2 linked regions of the Homo sapiens genome follow. The protein of the gene in region 2 interacts with the protein of the main gene of each other region in a biochemical or structural test. Each region holds a gene or a part of one and is shown on either strand. Other genes may lie near its edges.

The links.
Region 1: the proteins of BCL11A (region 2) and G3BP2 interact in a biophysical measurement, tested with the Homo sapiens proteins (one large-scale study listed by IntAct).

The regions. Positions count from the first base shown.
Region 1 is NC_000004.12:75,663,412-75,666,911, forward strand, and holds part of G3BP2 (ras GTPase-activating protein-binding protein 2), read right to left. Parts: intron 1-3,500.
Region 2 is NC_000002.12:60,459,655-60,463,154, forward strand, and holds part of BCL11A (BCL11 transcription factor A), read right to left. Parts: intron 2,771-3,500; coding exon 750-2,770; 3' UTR 1-749. UniProt on the Homo sapiens protein: Transcription factor. Associated with the BAF SWI/SNF chromatin remodeling complex. Binds to the 5'-TGACCA-3' sequence motif in regulatory regions of target genes, including a distal promoter of the HBG1 hemoglobin subunit gamma-1 gene.

The sequences.
Region 1 (3,500 bases), on a different chromosome or scaffold from region 2:
CATGCACCTGGCTAATTTTTTTAAATTTTTTAATTTTTATTTTTAGCAGAGACGAGGTCTGGCTACAATGCCCTGACTGGTCTCGAACTCCTGGCCTCAAGTGATCCTCTCACTTCAGGTGTGAGCCACAAACAAAACTTATCATTTACTGTAGGAATATAATCCCCAGGGCCAGGTACGGTGGCTCACACCTGTAATCCCAGCACTTTGGGAGGCAAGGCGGGTGGATCACAAGGGCAGGAGTTCAAGACCAGCCTGGCCAAGATGGTGAAACCCCATCTCTACTAAAAATAAAAAAATTAGCCAGGTGTGGTGGTGGGTGCCTGTAATCCCAGCCACTCCGGAGGCTGAGGCAGAGAATTGCTTGAACCCGGGAGGCGGAGGTTGCAGTGAACCAAGATCGCGCCAGTGCACTCCAGCCTGGGCGACAGAGCGAGACTCGTCTCAAAAAAATAAAAAATAAAAATATGAAATATAACCTATTTTATTTTTGAGATGGAGTCTTGCTCTGTTGCCCAGGCTGGAGTCCAGTGGTACGATCTTGGCTCACTGCAACCTCTGCCTCCCGGCAGAGCAATTCTCTTGCCTCAGCCTCCCGAGTAGCTGGGACTACAGGCACGTGTCACCACACCTGGCTAATTTTTGTATTATTAGTAGAGACGGGGTTTCACCATGTTAGCCAGACTGGTCTTGAACTCCTGACCTCGTGATCCACCTGCCTCAGCCTCCCAAAGTGCTGGGATTACAGGCGTGAGCCACCGTGCCCAGCCACCTGTTTTATTTTAAAAAGACCTATTAAACTTAAAAGTACTAAAAAAAAAAAATCATAATTCCTAAGCATGTATCTACTGGGTAAATCAGGATGCAGTTGAAATTCCTGCTTAGCCAGGTGCGGTGGCTGACGCCTGTAATCCCAGCACTTCAGGAGGCCAAGGTGGGCAGATCGCCTGAGGTCAGGAGTTCGAGACCAGCCTGGCCAAAATGGTAAAACCCCTTCTCTAGTAAAATACAAAAATTTGCCAGGCGTGGTGGCTGGCGCCTGTAGTCCCAGCTACTTGGGAAGCTGAGGCAGGAGAATCGCTTGATCCCAGGAGGCAGAGTTTGTAGTGGGCCAAGATCATGCCTCTGCACTGCAGCCTGGGCAACAACAGAGTGAGGCTCCATCTCAATAAATAAATAAAGTCCTGCTTAAACTTCAGGTTGAGCTGGGAGGATCATTTGAGATCAGGAGTTCGAGACCAGCCTGACCAAGATGGTGAAACCCCATCTCTACTAAAAATACAAATAATTAGCAGAGCTGATGGCACACACCTGTAATCTCAGCTACTCAGGAGACTGAGGCACAAAAAATCACTTTAACCTGGGGGACAAAGGTTGCAGTGAGCCGCGATCACACCACTGCACTCCAGCCTGGGCAACTGAGTAAGACTCTGTCTCAAAACAAACAGACAAAAAAACACTGCAGGCTGGCACAGTGGATCATGCCTGTAATCCCAGCACTTTGGGAGGTGGAGGTGGCAGGAAAGCTTGAGGCCAGGAGTTCAAGACCAGCCTGGCCAACAGAGAGACCCCATCTCTATACAAAAAATTAAAAATAAAAAGTCAATTTCCATGTGTGTTTACTTTAAATAACTAAAACAATTTCAGAGACAGCCCTGCATAGGTCATTAAAATTGTGATGCTGTTTTTAATAAAAATCAAATACCAACTATAGTAGAGCTTACAGATAGAGTGTAGCTTTACATAATTCTAGTGACTCACAATTCAACTTCTACATTATGTTTTTAGGTTCCTTGTTTCTTCCTTTCCAACAAACTATCCCTCCTCTAACTGTCCTTCTTAAACTCTCAAACTTGATTTACAAAAATCCCCAAATCTGTTTAAAATTTTTTATAATGCCTCACTTGCTTTCAAAAATAGTTAATTCACAAAGAGCAGATCCAAATACTGCCATTTCAGGTGTCATTGATTTTCCAGAAAACTTAAAACTCCCAATAAGGGTAACAACCCTAGTGCAAAAAGGACTCACATATGCTACATTTAAAGTAACAAAGCACTGGGCTGTGGCTCACGCCTGTAATCCCAGCACTTTGGGACGTCGAAGTGGGCAGACTGCTTGAGCTTAGGAGCTGAAGACCAGCCTGGGCAACAAGGCAAAACCCCATCTAAAATTAGCCAGACATGGTGGTGCACACCTGTAGTCACAAACACACAAACACACACACACACACAAACACACAAACAAACACACACACACACACACACACACACACAGCTAAGCAACTAACATTTTTATTTTGAATAATGAGGGTGGGTAAAGAACAGTAGACTTACCTGGTAAAATTTAACAAGATAACTAAAACATGGAAATTATATGTATTTTAACACCATAAAAACTGATGGTAAAATAATACTAACACATGGGAAAATACTACATTACTCTCTGAACAAAATAACTATACACAAAATAGTTTTCTTTAAATTGATAGTGACAGAAATACTATTAGGAATTTCCGGGTTTGGGAATTGTTTTCTTCTCTCTGGATTTCCAGATTTTCTACAGGAACACTGTTGTCATTTATCCCAAATTTCCCATCATATTCATAGAGTACATACTGATCTATCATTTTTGTCACTTACATATTTGTTTCTCAAACCAAAATAAAATGGTACATAATACATATATAATATCACAGGTCAAAATGCTCTAAAGATTTGTTGTAACAAGGTTCAAAAAAAGCTTCAAATTGCCCACTATCTACATGGTCACTGAAGTATAATGGCCAACATACCATCAATTTAGAACAGAGAGACAGGGAAGGGCAGTAGAAGTAATATTTGATTAATCAATACTCAATAAATTAATACTTAGAACTATTGGAAGGCAGTAACTTGAAAAGTTAACTTCAAATGGTAAATAAGTAAGGCAATGCTAATCTGGTAAAATCTAAACAGGCATATAACAGGTTATATAGAAAGCTGAGCTTTTAAGGTGCAGAGGAGGCTCCCAAAGGAATGGTAAAACAAAATCAAGATTTACTGAGAGAACAGTGTTTCAACTAATTACATCAGTTACTTCTTTAACCATAACTCCGATTTGAAGTGACTCAGAATTTAGAGAGCCAAAATATAATTGATAGAAATCAACCAGAAAATGACTACTAGAGATCAACCATCAAACAACGTGGTTTGGGTATTGCAGGAAATAAGACTATGAAAATTGAGTAAGTAATATAAAGTTCGTATTTATAATTCATGCAGTGTACGTAAGAAGGTTGAGAAAAAGGAAAAAAGCCAAATTACACTTTCAGAATAAAAGTGATTACAAGAAGAAAGAATTGTGCCATTTTTATTATTCATAGCAAATCATCTTACAGGTAATCCATTTCTAGATCTGGGACCTTCCATTTCTTAAAAAAAGTTAACAAAACGAAACAAAATTCTGAATATGGGAGTAAAAGGTTTCAACTATCTTATCCATGGCCATGAAAAACTCATGA
Region 2 (3,500 bases):
ATGTGGTTTTAATAGATCCAAGGCACTCATATTTTAAAACCAAATGATAGAATAAACTTGTTCTGTTTTTCTGTTAATTTGTCAATTCAAGGCCTTTTTTCTTCCTTTCCAATTGATACATTTAACCCTTTAGAGACAGACATTTAGCTCATAGAGATTTTTTTTCAGTGCTATCTATTCTGTCTATAGAGGGTTAATCCAAAGACTGTTTTTCCTCCTCACGTTATAAAATAAAACTGTACATGATATGTATTACAGAATGTATGCAGCATGGTCTTTTTCTCTCTCTCTCTCTTTTTCTCTCAGAACGGAACTGGAAACAGCAACATGTTTGCTCAGCAACGAATTAGGGACAATTTAAAATAGCCATAACATACCATACATGCTGTCTAAGTTTAAAAAAAAACATACACAACATGTAAATTATTGCACAAGAGAAAGGCTCAAAGTTTGCGTAAAATGCAATAGTATTGCCCCATACAGATCATGCATTCAAACGGTGAGAACATAAAGGAAAAAAAAAAAAAAGGAAAAAGAAAAAAGAAAAAGAAAAAGAAAAAAAACAGGTGTGCTGGTGACAAGCACTCTCATATTCTTAGCTTCGTTACTTCTGTTTGTTTGTTTGTTTGTTTAAATCACATGGGACTAGAAAAAAATCCTACAGGGAGTGGGGCTGGAGGGCGATGGGGAAGGGGAGTGGTGAAAAAGGGGGTGTCAGGTGGGAGTGAGGGAGGGGTATTAATATACCTCTATTCAGTTTTTATATCATTATTCAACACTCGATCACTGTGCCATTTTTTCATGTGTTTCTCCAGGGTACTGTACACGCTAAAAGGCATCTTACAAATTTCACATTTGTAAACGTCCTTCCCCACCTGGCCATGCGTTTTCATGTGCCTGGTGAGCTTGCTACTCTGGGCACAGGCATAGTTGCACAGCTCGCATTTATAAGGCCTTTCGCCCGTGTGGCTTCTCCTGTGGACAGTGAGATTGCTACAGTTCTTGAAGACTTTCCCACAGTACTCACAAGTGTCGCTGCGTCTGCCCTCTTTTGAGCTGGGCCTGCCCGGGCCCGGACCACTAATATGGGGCGTGCTCCCTCCACTTCCCGTGCCGCTGCGCCCCGAGATCCCTCCGTCCAGCTCCCCGGGCGGTGTGGAGAAGCGCAAACTCCCGTTCTCCGAGGAGTGCTCCGACGAGGAGGCAAAAGGCGATTGTCTGGAGTCTCCGAAGCTAAGGAAGGGATCTTTGAGCTGCCTGGAGGCCGCGTAGCCGGCGAGCCACTGCGAGTACACGTTCTCCGTGTTGGGCATCGCGGCCGGGGGCAGGTCGAACTCCTTCTCGAGCTTGATGCGCTTAGAGAAGGGGCTCAGCGAGCTGGGGCTGCCCAGCAGCAGCTTTTTGGACAGGCCCCCCGAGGCCGACTCGCCCGGGGAGCAGCCGCGGCCATTAACAGTGCCATCGTCTATGCGGTCCGACTCGCCGGCCACCGAGTCTTCGTCGCAAGTGTCCCTGTGGCCCTCGGCCTCGGCCAGGTGGCCGCGCTTATGCTTCTCGCCCAGGACCTGGTGGAAGGCCTCGCTGAAGTGCTGCATGGAGCTGAGCACCATGCCCTGCATGACGTCGGGCAGGGCGCGGCTCTCGTCGCCCACGCCCACGACCGCGCCCCGCGAGCTGTTCTCGTGGTGGCGCGCCGCCTCCAGGCTCAGCCCGAAGCCGTAGTCCACCCTCTCGCTCTCCGTCAGCTCCTCCTCCTCCTCTTCCTCCTCTTCTTCCTCTTCCTCGTCGTCCTCCTCTTCCTCCTCGTCCCCGTTCTCCGGGATCAGGTTGGGGTCGTTCTCGCTCTTGAACTTGGCCACCACGGACTTGAGCGCGCTGCTGGCGCTGCCCACCAAGTCGCTGGTGCCGGGTTCCGGGGAGCTGGCGGTGGAGAGACCGTCGTCGGACTTGACCGTCATGGGGGACGATTTGTGCATGTGCGTCTTCATGTGGCGCTTCAGCTTGCTGGCCTGGGTGCACGCGTGGTCGCACAGGTTGCACTTGTAGGGCTTCTCGCCCGTGTGGCTGCGCCGGTGCACCACCAGGTTGCTCTGAAATTTGAACGTCTTGCCGCAGAACTCGCATGACTTGGACTTGACCGGGGGCTGGGAGGGAGGAGGGGCGGATTGCAGAGGAGGGAGGGGGGGCGTCGCCAGGAAGGGCGGCTTGCTACCTGGCTGGAATGGTTGCAGTAACCTTTGCATAGGGCTGGGCCGGCCTGGGGACAGCGGTGGGCTAGACGTGTTCCCTGCCAGCTCTCTAAGTCTCCTAGAGAAATCCATGGCGGGAGGCTCCATAGCCATTGGATTCAACCGCAGCACCCTGTCAAAGGCACTCGGGTGATGGGTGGCCAGGGCCATCTCTTCCGCCCCCAGGCGCTCTATGCGGTGGGGGTCCAAGTGATGTCTCGGTGGTGGACTAAACAGGGGGGGAGTGGGTGGAAAGCGCCCTTCTGCCAGGCCGGAAGCCTCTCTCGATACTGATCCTGGTATTCTTAGCAGGTTAAAGGGGTTATTGTCTGCAATATGAATCCCATGGAGAGGTGGCTGGGAAGGACATTCTGCACCTAGTCCTGAAGGGATACCAACCCGCGGGGTCAGGGGACTTCCGTGTTCGCTTTCTAAGTAGATTCTTAATCCATGAGTGTTCTGTGCGTGTTGCAAGAGAAACCATGCACTGGTGAATGGCTGTTTGCAAGTTGTACATGTGTAGCTGCTGGGCTCATCTTTACCTGCAAAATAATACAACACCAACATCAATGTTTAATCACTGAGGCGGGCATCAGCAATTGCTTATTTATGTTCCACCTCCAGCCTTCCCTGCCCCCACCCCTCAACCCCAAGGCCTAAGCCCTCACTGACCTACCCCCTGTGCCTGGCACGTCTGAGCATGGGTACCCAGTAAATATTGGTCCAATTGATCTTCCTGCCATTAAACTCAGTTCTAGAAATTTTATATCCAATCCCCAAAGCAGAAAAATCCTGACCAGTTCTGGCTTGAGGATGAAGGTCCCTACATTCTAGGCACCTCAACAAATGTCTTCTAAACTTTCCAGTTCCATCAGCTGTAGTTTGGGGCAAGCCATCTCATCTCCATGTGCCTCTGTTTCCTCCTTGTTAAGTGAGAAACTTGGACAAGGTGACCCAAGGAAACTTTTTGGCTTCCTAAATCCCAGCTTTCTATTCCCCCCTGGGTGACAGGTGAACTTTCTAAATAGGCAAACATTTCATAGAGGTATCAAAAAAGGGGAAGAAGGTCAACTCACTACAATGTTCTATGGCCCTAAAGATGCTTTCAGCATTAGCCTGAAACACACTAATTGTTGATATTGTTAAAATGAGAGGGTACTCATAAAATACTTCCGTGGAAAAAAGACTAGCAACATTCTCACACCCCAGACTGTGGGAGGATCAGTGAGTCCCAATTTTGGTTCCACAACACCCCATGGGGACGTCCATTTT